Linked DNA regions of Homo sapiens: region 1 is linked to region 2. A link means that fine-mapping ties the variant in region 2 to the expression of a gene that starts in the linked region. Tissue or cell type: whole blood. Region 2 holds a variant in brackets; the other region holds the start of a gene. All regions are shown on one strand. Distances are from middle to middle.

Region 1 (5,112 bases), 63 kb after region 2:
GTGAGCCGAGATTGTGCCACTGCACTCCCACCTGGGTGACTGAGCAAGACTCCATCTCAAAAACAAAAACAAAAGAAAGAAAGAAGCAGGAAGTGAGCAAAGGGATCGTGGAAACAGAGATTTGAGTGATGAAGCCATGAGCCAAGAAATGCCAGCAACATTTGGAAGCTGGATGAGGCACGGAACAGATACTCTCCTTGACCCTCCAAAAAGGGACCAGCCCTGAGGATACCTTCACTTGGGCCCAGTAACACTGATTTGGGACTTCCCGCCTCCAGAGTCATCAGATAACAAATGTGAGTCATTTTAAGCCACTGAGCTTGTGTTAATTTGTGAGAGCAGCAACACGAAACTCCTACACCTTTATTCTAGCATTAGTCACACTGTGTGACAGGTGCCGTTCTCACTCCACTGACAGCTCCTCAGCCTGGGGCACCTTTGTTTCCTGATGGTTTCACACAAAGCCTGGTGCTTCACAAGGGCTCACAAACACTGCTGAATGAATCAACAAGTGGACTCACCTGCTTCATCCCCCGCCTGTCTCCGTCAGCCTGAACACACACACACTGTCATACCCACTCCTCTCACCTGCTCACCCACCACCACCCACATCTCCCAGGAGGACATTTCTATTTTTACCACAGCAGCTCACCTTGGGCTGGCCAGCAAATAGCTGTTTCCCTGGAACATACTGATTTTAAGTGAGGAGAGGGATTTCTCTCAAGGTAATAATTGGACAAATCTGCTGGGAGAAAAAGACTAACATTTTGCTATGGTGGATTTGAAACCCAAGAATTGGCATTGTAGCACAGAAACGCAAAAATCTTTCCTAATGAGCCATTGATGTTCGCAAGACACAACCCTGACTCTTCACAATCCCCATTCCTCCCCACCCCATCTCAGCCCCAAGGTGGTCACTGGAAGGATGGTGAAATCTGTATTTAATGACACTGAAAGATGTCCACTTTATAGCATTAAGGGAGAAAAGCAGATTCCAGAACAGTGTGAATAGCGTGATCCCATTTTGTTAAAAAATTAAATCTACAGACAATGTGTATGTGTATGTATATACATACATACATAGGTGTACGTGAGTTTATGTACGCATAGAGCAGAGGCTGGAAGATTGGTGAAGATGTTAACAATGGTTTTATGGGGGTTATGGACAGTTGTTTTATCTGTATTTTTAAAATTGTTTTACAAAGAACAAGACTACTAACATAATGGGAAATAAAGTTCAAGTAATTTCAACATTTAAAAAGTGGAGCGTTTTGCGCGGCAGGGCTATTTTTTGTGTGTCCGTTCCTGGACAGCCCCAGCTCGATCCCCCGCCCCTCCTCAAGTGGGAAGCTGGGATCTGGGCTCCCCAGAGCAATGGCGGAAGCTTCGCGCAGCTGCGGGCGGGGAGAGGGACGCGGCCAGGTCGGGGGGCCGGGAGGGGTGCTGGGAATCGGAAAACACAGATATGACCGCGAAGGCGGTTTCTGCCGAATGACCAGATGATGACCCGCTGTGGGCCCAAGGCGGAGTGCGGGGAGCCCGTTCCTGCCCGCGGTCCCTCTCCCTCCCCCACTGCCACACCGGCCCCGCCGAATCCTCCCCGGTCTCCTGGGCGAGGACAGGTGCCGCCCGAGACCCCGGCCGCAGACAGATGCCCACGGTCACTCCGGCCTTCCTCGGCCCCATTCGCCGCACACCCCCTTCCTGCGGTGGCGTTTTTGTTTTAACTCTTCTGAACTGGTTACAAAACCACCCTCCCACGAATACATAAATAATGGGTGGGGGGCGATGTTTTAAAGAAATTCCCGCAAGGCCTGGCAAGGCAACAGCAACTGCATTTCTGCTGCATCATATTTAACTGTTTGCAGGCTGCTGCGGGAGATGCGCGGTGGCGGCGAGACTCGGGCTCCACAGCCCTTCTCCGCCCGGGGCCTGGCGAGACTCGCGTGGGGATTAAGAGGCAAGGAGAGGGTGTCAGCGATCGGGCGCCGGCAAGATGTGAGGGGGGGTGATAAGCGTAAGGCCGCAGCGTGCCCACAAGCCGGGCACCCATCGGGTCGGCCGGCAATTGCTCCCTCCGCCCGCGCGGCCCCTTTAAGAGCCAGCGCGCGCCCCCGCCCCGCGAGCGCCGACTTTCCCTAGCAACCGCCCCGGGGGAGGGGGAGGTCCTGGCAACCGCGCGCCAGCCGCGAGGATCACGTGACGGCCCGCAGCTGGAACGCGAGCGCGCGCCCCGCCGCGCTCCCGCCCGCCGGGGCCTGGGCGCTGCGGCGCGTGCGCGAGCGGTGCCGCACCGGCCGCGGGCGCAGGGAGTATTATGGGCTGTGGGTGCCGCTGAGCAAGATGGAGCTGTCTGCAGTGGGCGAGCGGGTCTTCGCGGCCGAATCCATCATCAAACGGCGGATCCGAAAGGTGAGCCGCCGCCCGGGGCGGGCCGCCGCTGTCCGCAGCCGGGGCCGGGGCCGGGGGCCCTCGGGGCGAAGCGGTCCCGCTAGCCCGGCTCCCTCGCCCAGCCCCGCGCCGCCGCCTCCTCGCGTCCCCGCATCCTCCCCACCCCCACCCCCGTTTTTCTCCCCTCTGTTTTTCAGGGACGCATCGAGTACCTGGTGAAATGGAAGGGGTGGGCGATCAAGTGAGTGTCGCGGGGTCCGGGGGCGTCGCGGGAGGGGAGGCAGCGGGCACCGGGGCCTGGGGTGGGGGTGCGCGCTCTTGCTCTCGCCGCGTGCCTGTCCCTCTCTGGTCTTCATCCTGATTTTGTGCGTTTGTGACTCGGCAGGTACAGCACTTGGGAGCCCGAGGAGAACATCCTGGACTCGCGGCTCATTGCAGCCTTCGAACAAAAGTGAGTTGTTGGGGAAGCTGGCAGGGGCTGCGAGGCCGAGGCTCGGCTGGGGCGCCGCGCGGGGAAGCGGGAGAGCCGGGGAGGGCAGCGCGGAGTGGGGCCCGGGAAGGGGCTCTTTTTAACCTCTGGTGTTTTTCGGCCGCAGGGAGAGGGAGCGTGAGCTGTATGGGCCCAAGAAGAGGGGACCCAAACCCAAAACTTTCCTCCTGAAGGTAACCTGGCCCAGCCCCAGCAGCATCCCCCTCTCGGGCCCCCAGCCCCGGCACAGCACGGGGCCTGGAAGGGAGGGACAGATACGCGGCCGCCCAAGCGGGCCGGCCTTTTCAGAGGGGCCCCAGCTGGGCAGGGGGTGGTTGTGAGCCCCCCCAGAAGCCCCTGATGGCAGGCCTCAGCCAGCATCAGCTTCAACAAGAGGGTTTTGGGACTGGGGATAATCCTCCCTGTTGAAACCAGGGGCTGGGGATGCCTTTAGGGCTCCAGGAAAGGGGGTGGCTGAGGCAGGTGGGGGATGCCCATGGGAAGGGGGCATTTGTTTGAGCTGTTATGACTGTGCTGGGAGTTGGAACCCAGGGGGAGAGTGAGTGGGGTCCCACCTCCTGGCAGGGCACAAGGAGAGGATTTGGGGGACCACCTGCCTCCCTGCCCCCAGCTTCCCCCGTTCAGTCTTTCAGGATTTGTTCTTCATGGCTCCCCTCCTTTCTTGGGGATCCAACTTGAATTTGACCTCAAATCATTTTACTTTGAATTTATCACCCAGGCTGGGCCACTAACTTTAGGGCTCTGAGCCTCAGTTTCCCCCCACTCCCGGCCATTTCTGGGGGATGGGGATGTGGGAGTGAGAGCATAGCATATTAGTCTCTGCTAGGGAGGGAAGAACTTCCAGAGGAAGCCATCTTGGAGGATTTGGGTTTTTATTTTATTTTGACAAGGAAAAACAGAGTCTGGGAAAGGAAGGGCAAGATGGCCCTAGGTGGCAGGCACGGCTGCAGGTGGGACTCAGTGGGCCCCCTGTCTTCCTGTAGTGCTACGGATGCCTCAGGGCCCCCTCCCACCCGACAGCCGGTGACTTTGTGGGAGGACTCTTTTTCGGAGAAGAGAAGCAGAAGTGAAAGAAATGTTGGTTTCCAGAATTTCATATTTTTATAACCCCCACCCTCAAGCGACGCACATCCTAGGGGATCCAGGGAGTAACCTTAACCCTGATGCTTCTCTTGGGGAGGGATGGGCGGAGCAGCTGGAAGGCTGGTGGGCTGTGTGACAGCCTCTCAGTGCAGCTGGGGCACCCTCTAGCGGCGAAGCGAGTATGACCATGAGCATTGATACACAGAACGCCTTTTTTTCTTGATAGTTCTTTTGGTTCCTGAGCTGGCTGTGGGCCTAATACAGGGCTGAGCCCCCACATGGATTATCTCCTTTAATTCTTTCAACAGTTCCAAGAAGTAAGGAGTATTATCCCCATTTCACAGATAAAAAATCAAGGCCCAGGAAGGGAAAGTGACTTACCCGAGGTCCAGCTTCCTGGCTTCATCCTGTCTCCTTTTCTTCATCTTGTGCCTTGAGTAGTCCATGTCAGGTTAAAGGGGGAAGGCAGACACACACAGGAAACTATGAAGGCTGCAGAGTTGGCGTGGCAGGGGATAGAGACACAGATAGTAGGACTTTTTTATCTGGACCCTAAGAAACAGGTAGCCTGAGAGTGATGTGGATGTTTGTGAGGGGCTATGGAGATTAGCTTGGGCTGAACACATTGTTCTGGGGCTCCCTGAGAGGCAGTATGGCAGAGTCAGCAAATTACACTCAGCGCTTTCTGCCAGGAACTACTCTGAAGCAAACAGGAGCCCATGAGATAGCTTCCATCCTCCCTGTTTCACGCATGGGGAAACAGGGCCAGAGGTGTCCAGTAACTTGCCCACAGACATGGGGAGAGGCCATGGTAGAGTTCAGGTGCTTAAACCTTCACACCATCTACGGTGCTTGCCAAGCCCACAGAGCTATGCCTGTCACCTGGTCAGGGTGCAATAAGCATGTTGGCTACAGTTATTTTTAATTCATCAGGCAGACCCAGGTCCCACTTTCAAAGAGTTCTCCATGTGGGGAGGAAGAGGAAGGGTAAACCCTTTAAAAAATAATAATATATAGAAAGTATAAAGTAAGAAATGTCAATGTATGCCAAGCATACATTGGAAAAAGATCACTGCTTATAAGTCCACCACCCATGGGTAGGTCTGTTCAGTTATTTGCTGCGTGCCAGGCACTGTGCTGAGCAGGTG
Region 2 (5,195 bases):
ACCCACACACACACCCACACGCACACACCCACACACACACGCACACACCCATGGACACATTCATCACGACCTCACCTCTCAGTGGAACTGTGTCCTCTCTTCAACGGGGATAAAACCACTTCCCAGCATGATGGCTTCTACGGTTGAGTGGGAGACTCAGTCCAGGGCCTGACTTGGGGGAGTTCAATGTTCCTTCCCTTCCCTCCATAGGGCCAGGAAAGAAAGCCAGGTGGCCAATTCCCAGGCCAGCGTCTTCTCTCTTCCCACACCTTGTGAAGCCCACCTGACCCAGTTCACCCATGCCGTGGGAAGCCCTGGGCTGGGGCCCTGTGTGGTGCAGATAAGTCCAAGCTGGCCCCTGCCCTCTGGAAGCATCAGATGGACACCAGGCCTTCACTCACTCACCGGCCTGCGCCTTTCCACTGGGATTTGGTCCCTGCTGCCCAGACTGACCATACCTGAGCCTGAGCACTCCTTGTCACATGCTAGCCCCCTGCTTCTGGGAATGACAGAGCCTGGGAAGTAAAGGCCTCCTGGAGAGGGCTGGGACACCCTGACTTTGGGTGGTACAAGATGCGACACCCAGGGGAGTCTGGGGTGAGCTATGGGCAGGATCCTTTTCTGATTCTGCGTGTGTGCATGTGTGTGTTCGTACACACGCATGCACATGTGTGCGTGTGTGCCTGTACATGCATGTGTGCACACGTGTATGCATGTGGGTGTGTGCGAGCGTGTTCATGCACACGTACGTGCATGTGAGTGTGACCAAGCCACAGAAGCGGCAGGCCCAGCCATGTGGCAGCAGGGTCCGCTGTCTACAGATATACGCAGCTCCAGAGGCCAAAGAGAGCTTCCTGGGACAGAAAATGCAAACAAAACTGGTAATGGGAGCGGGAAGATGCAGAGGCCAGACTCAGAGACAGAGGCGAAGCGTGATGGACTCAAGGGCAGAGCTGAGACCCAGGTACTCCCGACCCCTGCAGCAGTGAGTCAGCGTCACCTTTTCTCTGCTTCCTGGGACCTCCAGGGTGGTGAACTCGGCTCCTTCCCCTAAAGGCTCCTCCTCTCCTCCTGGCCTCTTTCTAGGTCTTCTCTAGCCCAGCCCTGGCCACCTGCCCTTTCTCTGGGCTCCCTCCCTCCAGGAACTGGCTCTGCCCTTCACCCCAGCCAGGACACCTCTGCTGCAGCCCCCAAATCTGCTTCTCCAGCCTGACTCCGGGAGGCACACTAGCTTTTCAGCTCTGTAAGTTTCAGGAAACCCCTGGAATGTTCTTTTCAGAATGCTGATTCAGGTGGAACTGAAACTATGTCAAAATGGGTTTTAAACTACTTCAGCAAACTTTACAAAAATGTACAGAAAATGTCCCTATTTCAGATCTTATGACTCAAAAAGCAGGTACCTCAGCCAAGGTTATACTATTTCCTATGAGTACACTGTCAACTGTGAGAAGAGTGTTCTACTAACCCTTAAGTCCAGCTTACTGATTGTTCTTATTCTAACTGCCATCTAATTTAACAATGCTTAAAATATTATAACTGTCATTAAAGTGATGCATCCACAGAATCTCTGATAATGTAGAACATGAATAAAGTAGAACAAGTCTGAAGAAATTGTATCCACGACGTCGCTGAAAAAACTAAAAAGAAAGAATACTCAACTTCCATATTTTCAGGAGGATTCCATTCCTAGGGAACTAAAAGATGTCTCAAAATCTCTGATTATATCTTCCCTTTTAGATACGATCGTTGGCCATTTGGTTTCAGCATTTAAAACATGTCTTAAATGTTTTAAGGTGCGATGGCCAGGTGCGATGGGTCAGGCCTGTAATCCTAGCACTTTGGGAGGCCGAGGCGGGCGGATCACCTGAGGTCAGGAGTTCAAAACCAGTCTGGCCAACATGTTGAAATCTCGTCTCTCCTAAAAATACAAAAATTAGCCAGGCGTGGTGGTGCGCCCCTGTAATCCCAGCTACTTGGGAGGCTGAGGCAGGAGAATCGCTTGAACCCGGGAAGTGGAGTTTGCAGTGAGCCGAGAGTGCGCCACTGCACTCCAGCCTGGCAACAGAGCAAGACTCTGTCTCAAACAAACAAAAAACAAACAACAACAGCAACAACAACAAAAACATGGTTTCCTTCATCAGTGAAAATACACCTTTCCTCGGGCCTGGTGATGCCCAGATCTACCTGAATCGAACTATTTCATTCACATCTCCTTCATTTCCCTTGCTCCTACCTGCACTTTCCTTGCCCAACGCCCTTATCTTACAAGGTCACAAGGACAGAAGGCAGGAACAGTGAAGCGCTGGTGCACGCCCTGCTATAAAGGCAGAACCTGCAGTCTTGTTGGCAGGCTGCCCGCAGCCCTGGCATGGCCACACCTGACTTTGCCATGGCACGGTGCCCGGGAGCTGGGGATGATCACACCCCATGGTGCAAATGAGGGCTAGGCTGGGGCCTGGGGTACAGCCAGGGACATGGTGGCCAGGCTCCATCTGTCACATAATCGTGGTCAAACACCAAAGAGACCAAAGCTGAGGAACACTAGAATAGAGCAAAGTGTCAATTTTATAATCCGAATGAGAAACACATGATTGATAGAACAAACACAGGGTTAAAGCATACCGGGGAAATGTTCACAGCTGATGAATCTG[G/C]GTAAAGGGTATACGGATCCTCTTTCTATGCAATTTTCTGTCAATTTGAAATAAAATTCAAAGTTTAAACAAAAAATTCAAGTATTCACCATCTCTAGGTGGTAATAGGGATAATTTCCTTTTGCAACTTTTCTCTGCTTTTCAAATTGCCTGTGATGAGGGAGTGTTGTTTTTATCATCAGAAAACATTATTAAGGGCTGGGCATGGTGGCTCATGCCTGTAATCCCAGCACTTTGGGAGGCCAAGGTGGGCGGATCACCTCAGGTCAGGAGTTCAAGCCCAGCCTGGCCAACAAGGCGAAACCCCATCACTACTAAAAATACAAAAAAATTAGCCAGGCGTGGTGGTGGGCGCCTGTAATCCCAGCTACTCCGAAGGCTAAGGCAGGGAGAATCGCTTGAACCCAGGAGGCGGAGGTTGCAGTGAGCTGAGATCACGCCACTGTACTCAAGCCTGGGCGAAAAGAGCGAGACTCTGTCTCAAAAAAAAAAACAGAAAAAAGAAAAAAAGAAAAGGAAAAGAAAAGAAATGCTCTTGGGTGGTGTGGGGCAGGGGATGGGGCTCCCAACAAGGGTGGAGTTTGCATCAAAGCTGCTGGGGGCCAAGCCAAGGTAAATGTCAATAATTAATTCCAGGGTCCCCAGATCCTGCCCCGTGCCTTTTGACTTAATGGCTACTTGGCTGCAAATGAAAAGAAAAGAGAGGGGAAGGGCTGAGACCGTCTATGACTCCCACAGCTGGTTTTCATTGGGCATCTGATTCCCAAATGTTCAGTTCCTAAGTCAGAAAGATGGGAGTGGAATGAGAAGGTGAAGAGGAAGAGAAAGGCATGGCAGGCAGAAAGCAGAGCCGAGCAGAGGAGAGAGGCGAGTAGAAGCCAGGTGTGGGAGAGGAGAGGCCAGAAACTGCAACCTGCTGTTGCTTCAGGGAGGTGGCCTTAGGGCCAAGAGGAGCAGAAACAGGGGTGAGCAGGCAGCAGAATCAGCACACAGAAGGCCTTTTAAAAAAGTGTGGCATGGGCCAGGCGCAATGGCTCACGCTGTAATCCCAGCACTATGGGAAGCCGAGGCGAGTGGATCACTTGAGGTCAGGAGTTCGAGACCAACCTGGCCAACATGGTGAAACCCTGTCTCTACTAATAATACAAAAATTAGCCAGACGTGGTGTCACGCGCCTGTAATCCCAGCTACTTGGGAGGCTGAGGCAGGAGAATCGCTTGAACCCGAAAGGCAGAGGTTGCGGTGAGCCGAGATTGCACCACTGCACTCCAGCCTGGGCAACAGAGTGAAACTCCGTCTCAAAAAAATAAAATAAAAATAAAAACAAAAGTAATGTATAGTAAGATACACACAACATCAAATTCACCATTAAGTACATTCACAGTGTTGTGCAACCATCACCACCGTCCATCTCCATAACTTTTTCATCATCCCAAATGGAAACTCTGTAGCCATTAAACACCAAATTTCCATTTCCTCCTACCTCGGCCCTTGGTAAAATATCACCAGTTTACAAAACACGCAGGATAGCGTCTACCTCAAGCCTGCAAGTATGAGTTTATAATCACTAATTCTTGTCTGTTTTGTTTTTTTCTTTTTTTTTAAATTTGGAAGGCACGTAGGATTGTAAAGGTTAGCTGCCCAAGTTTGTCCAGCCACCACTCAGAGAGCACAAATGGTAGCCCCGGCATTGCAACTTTGGGAGGCTTGAGATGGTAGACATTGTTTGTTATCTATATAGGGTTGACTGTTGTAGCCTGAAATGTTTGGCTCATTCTTTTAAAAAAACTAAATCTTCTTAGAGTCTTTCCTCTAATTGTGCTCAAGTGAGCTCCAGAATCAGATTAAATAACCACAGATTCAAAGTGTGACAACTGTATCCTGTTTCATTATACAAATAGAAGTCTTGGGAAGTTTGCAAGTTGCCCAGAATACAAGCACTAGGCAAATTCAGATAGTTTGCAAGATTAGAGTCCAATCCTGTGGTCATTGGTAGACAGGCAAATTTAATTGAAGAGGTGTCACTGAATTCAAAAACTGAAAATACTTCAAAAAATAACATTGAATCAAATAGGTTTCAAAATTATTCCATGCAAAGGGAGATTATGGATAAAGGGAGTTGGCAACTGAGCATGCTAAATCAAATTCAGCTTTCATGATAAAATGGATTTACTATTTGCATTTGTTTAACAATGCCTCCCTAAAAGTCACCAGCTTCAAGAGTTATACATTGTATTGAAACGAATCTTAACTTATTAGGGGAAATAGTCATAGCAGGTAGCCAGTAGCCAGTGACAAAATACCAGCTGTGAAAATTGAGGCAAATTGAGAAACTAGAAGCTTTTCCACTAAGATCAGGAACAAAGCAAGGATGCCCCCTCTCTCACACTGCTTTTCAACATCTTACTGGAAGTCCTAACTAATGCAATAAGACAGGAAAAGAAATAAAAGGTATACAGATCAGGAGCAAGGAAATAAAGCTGTCTTTGTCTGCAGATAACATGACCATTGTCTTCGTCCATTGGGGCTGCTATAACAAAATAT

Evidence for each region. PIP is the estimated chance that this variant, and not a neighbour inherited with it, causes the effect.
Region 1: it holds the start of CBX6, and the variant in region 2 is fine-mapped to the expression of CBX6 in whole blood (TOPMed, PIP above 0.99).

What each region holds. Positions count from the first base shown.
Region 1 is chr22:38,869,422-38,874,533 of GRCh38, reverse strand. It overlaps CBX6 (chromobox 6), which reads left to right and starts at 2,318. Exons shown (of 5, transcript NM_014292.5): 1 at 2,318-2,412; 2 at 2,589-2,632; 3 at 2,777-2,842; 4 at 2,988-3,054. The coding sequence starts at 2,344. RefSeq lists enhancers at 1-159, 1-1,175, 1,012-1,561, 1,562-2,112 and silencers at 2,107-2,366, 2,397-2,546, 2,647-2,696.
Region 2 is chr22:38,932,396-38,937,590 of GRCh38, reverse strand. No RefSeq gene overlaps it. Among named protein-coding and RNA genes, the nearest start is that of APOBEC3A, 23 kb to the left of the region's middle. RefSeq lists an enhancer at 447-1,268. The variant G/C (reference allele first, on the strand shown) is at 2,652.